Homo sapiens: one gene and its partners. The protein of the gene in region 1 interacts with the protein of each later gene in a pairwise test. Each region holds a gene or a part of one and is shown in the gene's direction. Other genes may lie near its edges.

Evidence for each region. Proteins that work in one complex are often made in the same cells at the same time.
Region 2: the proteins of ZSCAN23 (region 1) and TULP3 interact in a two-hybrid assay, tested with the Homo sapiens proteins (one large-scale study listed by BioGRID and IntAct).
Region 3: the proteins of ZSCAN23 (region 1) and PPARA interact in a two-hybrid assay, tested with the Homo sapiens proteins (one large-scale study listed by BioGRID).

Annotation. Positions count from the first base shown.
Region 1 is NC_000006.12:28,436,992-28,440,491, reverse strand, and holds part of ZSCAN23 (zinc finger and SCAN domain-containing protein 23), read left to right. Parts: exon of another isoform or gene 1-417; intron 418-3,500. UniProt on the Homo sapiens protein: May be involved in transcriptional regulation.
Region 2 is NC_000012.12:2,897,391-2,900,890, forward strand, and holds part of TULP3 (tubby-related protein 3), read left to right. Parts: intron 1-3,500. UniProt on the Homo sapiens protein: Negative regulator of the Shh signaling transduction pathway: recruited to primary cilia via association with the IFT complex A (IFT-A) and is required for recruitment of G protein-coupled receptor GPR161 to cilia, a promoter of PKA-dependent basal repression machinery in Shh signaling.
Region 3 is NC_000022.11:46,234,026-46,237,525, forward strand, and holds part of PPARA (peroxisome proliferator-activated receptor alpha), read left to right. Parts: intron 1-1,107; coding exon 1,108-1,355; 3' UTR 1,356-3,500. UniProt on the Homo sapiens protein: Ligand-activated transcription factor. Key regulator of lipid metabolism. Activated by the endogenous ligand 1-palmitoyl-2-oleoyl-sn-glycerol-3-phosphocholine (16:0/18:1-GPC). Activated by oleylethanolamide, a naturally occurring lipid that regulates satiety.

The DNA of each region.
Region 1 (3,500 bases):
ATTCAGCAGATCATGTTTCAAGCCATGATGATCTCTTCCCTGGATGATTATCATAGCATCCCTCTCTGCCTCCACTTAACCCCAAGGTCATTGACACAGCGGCTAGAGTTATGCTTTTGTGTTAAATGGAAGTAAAATTTTGTTACCCCTTGGCTCAAAAATCCCCAGTGGTTTCCATATCTCATAGAATACAAGTTAGAGCCCTTACCACTGCCTTTCATGATCAGTTCCCAAGCTCCCTGCTTTATCTCCTGTTACTTTCCCTTTTGTTTTCTTTGTTCCAGCCATTGTTCAACTAGCTATTACCTGAAGAATCCAGGTGTGTTCCCACCTGCAAAAATTTGCACTTGGCAGTTACCTTTGCATGGAACAGTCTTTCTCCAGATAGCCATGTGACTTGCTCCTCACTTCCTTCAGGTCTGTTCAACCATTACCTTATCAAGGCCTTCCCTGACTCTATAAAATAGCAACCTTTCTTTCCCCTTACTCTCTCTCTCCTTACCTTTATTTTCTCTATAGCATTTATCACTACTTCACAAATACTTAATTATTATCTGTTTCCTCTGACCCGTTTTCCTCATCCTGGCCCCTCTTTTCCCCAACAGAAGTTAGTGTTGTAGCAGTGGAGACTGTAAATTCTGATGTCAGATTTGTTGGGTTTGAATTGCAGCTTCACTGCTTACTATCTGTAACTGACTTGAACTTTGGACTAGTAACTTAAACTTTTCATATCTCAGTTTTCTCATCTGTGATATGGGGGTAATAATAGCACCTTATTCATGGTTGTTTTGAGGATTAAATGGGTTAATATATATAAAGCATCTGTAACAATACCTGGCACGTTAAAAGCACTATAAATGTCCGCTATTATTAATACTGTTATTAGGATGTAAATTCCATGAGACTAGGGACTTCGTTATAATTGCAGCTGTATCCCCAGTGCCTAGAACAGTACATGGAATATGGTAGGCTCTGAATATATATTTGCTGGTAGGCTCTGAATAAATATCTGCCAAGTGAATGAATGGTGTATGAAAAGTTATGACAGAAAAAGATAGTATGGTAGTCACAGTGGTGGTGAGTCGCACCAAGAAAAGTGGAGGAAGGCTGGGCGTGGTGGCTCACACCTGTAATCCCAGCAGTTTGGGAGGCTGAGGCAGGCAGATCACGAGGTCAGGAGTTCGAAACCAGCCTGGCCAACATGGTGAAACCCTGTCTCTACCAAAAAAATACAAAAATTAGCTAGGCATGGTAGCGGGTGCCTGTAATCCCAGCTACTCAGGAGGCTGAGGGGAGAATCATTTGAACCTGGGAAGCAGTGAGCTGAGATCGTGCTGTTGCACTCCAGCCTGGGCGACAGGGTGAGATTCCGTCTCAAAAAAAAAAAAAGTGGGGGAAAACATGAATTTGCAGATTCTGTCTTTAGAGGAAAAAAATCCTCTGTACATTTCCTGGGGTAGTGATTACAGAAGGTAACCAAACCAAAGATGTCAGAACTTTATGGAGAGGATTATGTGTGCAGGTTATCCGGAAGGATGCTGTCCCATGCCAGTAGTTTGTTTCCCCTTTGATAAATATAACCAATAATCACAATATGAATCTAATTTTTCTTCGGGTTGTAATGTGATCAGTGTTCACTTGTAATTTAAATACCTGATATGGTTTGGCTGTGTCCCCATCCAAATCTCATCTTGAATTATAGTTCCCAATTTCTCATAATCCCCATGTGTCGTGGGAGGGACCCGGTAGGAGACAATTTAATTATGGGGGCAGGTACCTTCATGCTATTCTGGTGACAGTGCGTTCTCATGAGATCTGACGGTTTTATAAGGGGCTTTTCCCCCTTTTGCTCGGCACTTCTCCTGCTGCTGCATGTGAAGAAGGACATGTTTGCTTCCCCTTCCACCATGATTGTAAGTTTCCTGAGGCCTCCCCAGCCATGCTGAACTGTGGGTCAATTAAACCTCTTTCCTTTATAAATTACCCAGTCTTGGGTATGTCTTTAGTAGCAGCTTGAGAACAGACTAATAAAATACCCTATTCTTAGTTATTTAATTTCACAATGCATGTCAACACCTTAAGAATAGTGTAGGGTTGCTGGGCGCGGTGGCTAATGCCTGTAATCCCAGCACATTGGGAGGCCAAGGCGGGTGGATCATCTGCGGTCAGGAGTTCGAGACCAGCCTGGCCAACATGGTACAACCCTGTCTCTACTAAAAATACAAAAATTAGCCTGGCATGGTAGTGGGTGCCTGTAATACCAGCTACTCAGGAGGCTGAGGCAGGAGAATTGCTTGAACCCAGGAGGCGGAGGTTGCAGTGAGCTGAGATTGTGCCACTGTACTCCAGCCTGGGCAACAGAGCAAGACTCCTTCTCAAAAAAACAAAAACAAAAACAAAAAACAACAAACAGAATAGAGTAGGGTTATTTTTGCAATGGATTACAACAATTTTACTTAAAACAAAAATATTTTATTCTACAGGTTATTATTCATTTGTGGGTCATAAAATCTATGTGGTGTGTCACAACCCACCACATAGATTTTATAACCCACAAAATCTGTTCCCAGGCTTTTTTGTTTTGTCTTTTAATGAAATAGGTTTAAAAATAATTGTATGTCACTATATAGAGCAAGGATACATAGTGTTTTGTGAAATTATTATTTTAGGTATTTGTGTATCTCATAAATGCACAAACATATATACATATGCATGTGTGTTCTGGGTTATAATATAAAATATTTCTTAATAAGAGTCCTGGTCAAAAAAGTTTGAAAGTCTCTACTCGAAGATGGTGCTTAGAAATCACTGGGTCATATAATTGTTTTTCTTTCAGAAAATTTTCTTCATTAATTACTATCCTGGTAAAGATTGCTCATAAGTTTGTTTGTTTTTGTTTTTGTTTTTTTGAGACAGAGTCTTGCTCTGTCGCCCAGGCTAGAGTGCAGTAGTGTGATCTCAGTCCACTGCAACCTCTGCCTCCCGGGTTCAAGCGATTCTCCAGCCTCAGCCTCCTGAGTAGCTGGGATAACAGGCGTGTGCCACCAAGCCCAGCTAATTTTTGTATTTTTTAGCAGAGACGGGGTTTCATCATGTTGGCCAGGCTATTCTCGAACTCCTGACCTCAGGAGTCATAGACATTTGTCTTTTTATTAGCAGTAATTTTATTTTACATAAAATTGCCTACTCTCCACCTTCAAGTAGCTTCAAAGAGAAAAAGTTTCAAAGAAATTAAAGGGCAAGAGAAAGGTCAAATTCTACTCCTGTTTTAAAGTACTGGAACCAATATTTCCGTCATTTTAGTATCTCTGAGCCTAGACCACTGCAGTCAACTACTTTCTGATTCTTTTGCCTTAGCCTTAAACCACTAGGATATTCATTTAATCATACAATAACATAAGAAAAATAAGTGTTACCACTTTGGAGTTTACTAAGTAGCCAACTTCTTTGTGCTCATTATCCTCGTTTTATCTTTGTATCAACCTAGAAAGATAGGCAGT
Region 2 (3,500 bases), on another chromosome or scaffold:
ATTATGATGAAATCATTAGTCTTCTCACTGAAGTGAAGATTAAGGTAACACATTCATTTGTAGTATTAAGAAGTATTGTAAAACAAAAATCTTCCCAGGCACAGTGGTTCAGGCCTATAATCCTAGCACTTAGGGAGGCTGAGGCAGGAGGAAGGAGATCACTTGAGGCCAGTAGCTCAAGACCAGCCTGGGCAACATAGTGAGACCCCCTGTCTGTCTGTTGGTCTGTCATGTTCGTTTGTTCTCTCTCTCAAGACATAGGGTCTTGCTGTATTGCCCAGGCTAGTCTTGAACTCGGGCCTCAAGTGATTCTCCCACCTCGGCCTCCCAAAATGCTGGAAAGGCATGAGCCACTCTGCCTGGCCCGAGACCCTGTCTCTTAAAAAAAAAAAAAAAAAAAATTCTAGGCCCAGTGCGGTGGCTCATGCCTGTAATCCCAGCACTTTGGGAGGGCAAGGCAGGCAGATCACCTGAGGTTAGGAGTTAGAGACCAGCCTGGGCAGCATGGTGAAACCCTGTCTCTACTAAAAATACAAAATTAGCCAGGTGTGGTGGCGCATGCCTGTGATCCCAGCTACTTGGGAGGCTGAGGCATGAGAATCACTTGAACATGGGAGGCAGAGGTTATAGTGAGCCAAGATCGCGCCATTGCACTCCAGCCTGGGCAACAAGAGCGGAAACTAGATCTCAAAAAAAAAAAAAAAAAAAGATATAATAGCAGTTGCAGTTTGAGTGCTTACTATGAGCCAAGTTTCATTTAATCTTCACAATAACCTTCTGAGTTAAGTGTCATTGTCCTCACTTTGTAAATTAGGAAACTTGAGGCTTTACTAGGTTAAGTTGTACTGGGAACTGTGCTGTAACCACATAGCACACGTCTCTAAATGGGGACTTACAATTAGTTTGAACTAATATAGGCCAAGCCAGGGGTCAGCAGACCTTTTTAATTATTTTTTTTCAGATGGGGTCTTGCTTTGTTGCCCAAGCTGGTCTTGAACTGCTGGACTTAAGCCATCTTCCCGCCTCAGCCTCCCTAGCAGCGGGGACTATAGGCATGCACCATCACCCCTGGCCAGTAGTCCTTTTCTGCGAAGGTCTTAACCAAACGTTTTTGGTTTTGTGGGCCATACAGTCTCTGTCCCAGTTGCTCATTACTCAGTTTTGCTGTTGTAGCACAAAAGCAGCCATAGATAATAGGTAAGTGAATGAATGTGTCTATTTCAATAAGACTTTATGGACACTGGAATTTGAAGACTTTTTTCTTTTTATTCATTACTTCCTGCACAGTGATAATTTCTTTTGGGCTGGGGGGACAGGTTCTCACTATGTGCCCAGGCTGAGTGCAGTGGTGCAGTCGTAGCCCACAACAGCCTTGAACTCCTGGGTTCAAGCAGTCCTCCTTCCTCTGCCTCCTGAGTAGCTGGGATTACAGGTGTGCACCACCACACCTGGCTAATTTTTAAATTTTTTGTAGAGACGGGTCTCACTATGTTGCCCAGGCTGGTCTCAAACTCCTGGCCTCAAGCAGTCTGCCCACATAGGCATCGCAAAGTGCTGGGATGACAGGCATGAGTCACTGCACCTGGTTGGAATTTGAATTTAATATAATTTTTACATGTCTCAAAATATTATTCTTCAGATATTTTTAACCTTTTAAAAATGTGAAATTCATAGGCTGGGCACAGTGGCTCACGCCTGTAATCCCAGCACTTTGAGAGGCTCATGCGGGTGGGTCACCTGAGGTCAGGAGTTAGAGACCAGCCTGACCAACATGGAGAAACCATGTATCTACTAAAAATACAAAATTAGCCGGGCATGGTGGCCCATGCCTGTAATCCCAGCTACTCGGGAGGCTGAGGCAGGAGAATCGCTTGAACCCAGGAGGCTGAGGTTGTGGTGAGCTGAGATCACGCCATTGCAATCCAGCCTGGGCAACAAGAGCGAAACGACGTCTCAAAAAAAAAAAAAAAAAAACAGCGAAATTCATTCTTAGCTCAAAGGCAGTACAAAAACTGACGGCAGGCCAGATTTGGCCCACACGCTATAGTTTGCAGCCCCTGTGCTAAATCATAAAAGTATTTTTTCCTGGAAGGTCATAGTTATTCATACTGTGAATATTATTTAAGAGAGCATTGAAGATTGTTTTTATATTAAAATGGAACCCGTTACCTTATGGAATAAAACCCAGAATTTAATTTTCAAGATAAAACTTGGAGGCGGGGGCCGGGCGTGGTGGCTCACGCCTGTAATCCCAGCACTTTGGGAGGCCAAGGTGGGCGGATCACGAGGTCAGAAGTTCGAGACCATCCTGGCTAACACAGTGAAACCCTGTCTCTACTAAAAATACAAAAAATTAGCCGGGTGTGGTGGCAGGTGCCTGTAGTCTTAGTTACTCGGGAGGCTGAGGCAGGAGAATGGCATGAACCCAGGAGGCGGAGCTTGCAGTGAGCAGAGCTCATGCCACTGCACTCCAGCCTGGGCGACAGAGCGAGACTCCGTCTCAAAAAAAAAACAAACAAAAAAAAAAACAAAAAAAACTTGGAGACGGCTGTGGTGGCTCACATCTGTAATCCCAGCACTTTGGGAGGTTGAGGCAGGCGCGTCACCTGAGATCACGAGTTCGAGACTAGCCTGGCCAATGTGTTGGAACCCCGTCTCTACTAAAAATACAAAAAAAATAAAAAATTAACCAGGCGTGGTCGCACTCCTGTGTTCCCAGCTACAGGGGAGGCTGAGGCAGGAGAATAGCTTGAACCTGGGAGGAAGAGGTTGTAGTGAGCCGAGATCGCGCCACTGTACTCCAGCCTAGCGACAGAGCAAGACTCTGTCTCAGAAACAAAAACAAAAAAACTTGGATTCTAAAGATACGTTGTTCTGTAGATGGTCTCTGGACCGTACTTTCCTCCTTTCTCCTCAATTTCATTTAGAGCATAAAAGCACTTTCTTAGGCTGTTTGAAGCACTTGGATTGGAAATGTTGCCTGCAGTAACCTGTATAAACATCAATATATCAATAACAGATTATTAGTGCAAAATTTAAATGTCCAAAAACTGAAAGGGAATAATGATCGGTGACTGGGTCTATGAAATTACAAAAGTAAAGCCTAAGGGAGATGGCAAGCTTTCCTATTCTGCTACCCTTGTCAGCTGATGTCTTGGTAGAATTAATAAAGTACTCTTTTTAAACTCAAAAACATCTGTTTTGAATAATACTTTTTTTTTTAACACCCTACCTTTGAGGTAACTATTGTTAATAGTTTGTGTATATCCTTCTGGAATTCTTCTATTCCTGTAGACCTTGCAGATACTTTTTTTTTTTCTACTTGCAGTTATTTTTATTTTTTGTTTTTTGAGAGTGTCTTGCTCTCTCACCCTGGCTGGAGTGTGGCGGTGTGACGATAGCTCAACCTCCTGGGCTCAAGCAATCCTCCCACCTCAGCCTCCCAAGTAGCTGGAACTATAGGCATGCGCAACCAAGCCGAAATACTTTTTTTTTTTTTT
Region 3 (3,500 bases), on another chromosome or scaffold:
ATTGGCCAGGCTGGTCTCAAACTCCTGACCCCGGGTGACCCACCCACCTCGGCCTCCCAAAGTGCTGGGATTACAGGCATGAGCCACTGCACCCGGCAATAATTCCTCTCTTTAGAGACTTAATAGTTATAGCCCCAGCCACTCTGGAGGCCGAGGCAGGAGGATTGCTTGAGCCTAGGAGTTCCAGTCCAGCCTAAGCAACAGAGCAAGACCCCATCACTAAAACAATACAAAAACAAGAATTTTAGAAATAAAAACTTAATAATTACATTTACAACCAAAAACAATGAAGATGTTTAAATCCTCATCACTAGCAACCCTGTTAAGAATCATAGTAATGACTGGGTCTGTAAGGGAGCACCGCCTGCTGAACATGGCTCAGGGCAGTATTTTCTGGACCAAGAATCAGGTCTCATGCTTTGAGACTGTCCCAGGATGTCTAGTGCCAGCTACCCCAGGCAGGTCATCTGGTGTGAATGTTGACTCTTCCTGCACCAAGTCTCAGACCTGCCCCACCCTCCTCCCCACTCTGGGTCTCCTGATCTTGGCTCACTGCAATCTCCGTCTCCCAGGTTCAAGCGATTCTCCCACCTCAGCCTCCCGAGTATCTGGGATTACAGGCGTGAGCCACCGTGCCTGGCCTACAAAACCTAGTTCTAACACAATCACTCCTTAAATATGGTGGAACACTTGAAGCTTGATATCTAGTTTGGATTCAAAAGCTTCATTTCCCATATTATGCAAAACTGGTGGTTGTGATCTCCAGAATGTACTGTTCCTCCTACTAGCTCTAATTTTTCTCCCTGACAGGTGGTCATCAGGTAAATCACAAGTGAAAAGGCCGCACCATAAGGTGTACTTAGGGCACTATTGCCGCCTAGTAGTATGAATATTTAGGAAAGAGTACTGGTCCTGTCTGTCCCTACTTCACCTATTGACTTTGGAAAAACCTATGTCTATCTTCCAGTCAAGTTGACAATATCTAAAGGCAGCTCAGTTTTTTTCTAAGAAAGGCCACATAAAATAGGCATGTTTGGTTCCTGAAACTGATAAGCAGTTCTTGGGTGATTATCACACTCAAACCTCTCTCTCTTCTTTCGAGACTAGATCGTCCTGGCCTTCTAAACGTAGGACACATTGAAAAAATGCAGGAGGGTATTGTACATGTGCTCAGACTCCACCTGCAGAGCAACCACCCGGACGATATCTTTCTCTTCCCAAAACTTCTTCAAAAAATGGCAGACCTCCGGCAGCTGGTGACGGAGCATGCGCAGCTGGTGCAGATCATCAAGAAGACGGAGTCGGATGCTGCGCTGCACCCGCTACTGCAGGAGATCTACAGGGACATGTACTGAGTTCCTTCAGATCAGCCACACCTTTTCCAGGAGTTCTGAAGCTGACAGCACTACAAAGGAGACGGGGGAGCAGCACGATTTTGCACAAATATCCACCACTTTAACCTTAGAGCTTGGACAGTCTGAGCTGTAGGTAACCGGCATATTATTCCATATCTTTGTTTTAACCAGTACTTCTAAGAGCATAGAACTCAAATGCTGGGGGTAGGTGGCTAATCTCAGGACTGGGAAGATTACGGCGAATTATGCTCAATGGTCTGATTTTAACTCACCCGATGTTAATCAATGCACATTGCTTTAGATCACATTCGTGATTTACCATTTAATTAACTGGTAACCTCAAAATTCGTGGCCTGTCTTCCCATTCACCCCGCTTTTGACTATTGTGCTCCTTTATAATTCTGAAAACTAATCAGCACTTTTTAACAATGTTTATAATCCTATAAGTCTAGATGTATCCAAAGGTGAAGTATGTAAAAAGCAGCAAAATATTTATTTCAAAGACTTCACTTCTGTTTCCTGAATCTAAAGAAAGACAACATGCTGCTTTTTAATCATAGGATGGAGAATTTTAAAGAACTGTTTGGGCCAGGCACAGTCGCTCATACTTGTAATCCCAGCACTTTGGGAGGCCGAGGCGGGTGGATCACAAGGTCAGCAGATCGAGACCATCCTGGCCAACATGGTGAAACCCTGTCTCTACTAAAAATACAAAAATTAGCCGGGTGTGGTGGCACATGCCTGTAATCCCAGCTACTCGGGAAGCTGAGGCAGGAGAATTGCTTGAACCAGGGAGTTGGAGGTTGCAGTGAGCTAAGACTGCACCACTGCACTCCAGCCTGGTGACAGAACGAGACTCTGTCTTAAAAACAAACAAACAAAAAAAAAATCTGTTAGATAAGCTATCAAAATGCAGCTGTTGTTTTGTTTTTGGCTCACTGTTTTCGTGGTTGTAACTAATATGTGGAAAGGCCCATTTCCAGGTTTGCGTAGAAGAGCCCAGAAAACAGAGTCTCAAGACCCCCGCTCTGGACTGTCATAAGCTAGCACCCGTGGTAAGCGGGACGAGACAAGCTCCCGAAGCCCGCCAGCTTCCTGCTCCACTCAGCTCCGTCCAGTCAACCTGAACCCACCCAGTCCAGCTGTCTGTGGGAATGGTGGTGTTCTTAGGGACAGACTGACACCTTACTTGTCAGTGTTCCTCCGGGCCCCATTTGGCAGCTCCCGTATCTTTTGTTATGTTGCTTTTAAAGATATGATGTTTTATTGTTTTAACTCTTGGTGACAGTAGATGCTCTCTGGAGCGCAGACGAGGCACATGTGTCTTCATAGCCTGGGCTGGGTGGGAGCCAGTCACCCTGCGGATCGAGAGAGGGGGTAGAGTCTTCTTCAAATGGCAGTTTTACTTCAAATGGCAGATTTCACAAGAGTTGGTTATTTTTTACAATGGTTTAGGTTGTTAAGTCTCCTTTGTATGTAAGGTAGTTTTTTCAACATCTAAAATTTTTGTTTTAGCCTTCAAAACCAACTTACCAACCTCAGTCCAGCTGGGAAGGCAGCGTTGATTATGGTAGTTTGTCAAGAATATATGGACCTGGAAACACTTTCTCTCTCTGTCCACCTGGTAGATAAATTGTCCTGTTGAGAATTTTTAGATCTGGACTGGAACTGCCAGGACCACCGCCTCCAGGGAGTCGCTGGGCACCTGGAGGTATCGTCGATGCCTCTCCCCCATCTTTAGAAAATTTGGCTCTTCTGAGGTCATTATTATTTTAAGAATGATTAGGATTGATAAGGGTCCCATGACCAGCATTATGAAAATGCGAGAGTGGGAAGGACACAGTGTGAGACTTCCACTAGAAAAAAGTGAAAGTTAGGGTTAGGACATCCTTTTTTAAAAATTACAAATTTAGTCCGTTTTGGTTTTTGTAATCAGGCTAGGCACAGTGGCTCACACATGGAATCCCAGCACTTTGGGAGGCCGAGGTGGGAGGATCACTTGAGCCCAGGAGTTCGAGACCAGCCTAGGCAACATAGCAAGACCCTGTCTGTACACAAAATTTAAAAATTAGTTCATCGGGGTGGCACACATCAGTAGTCCCAGCTACTCTGCAGGCTGAGGTGGGAGGATTGCTTGAACCCAGG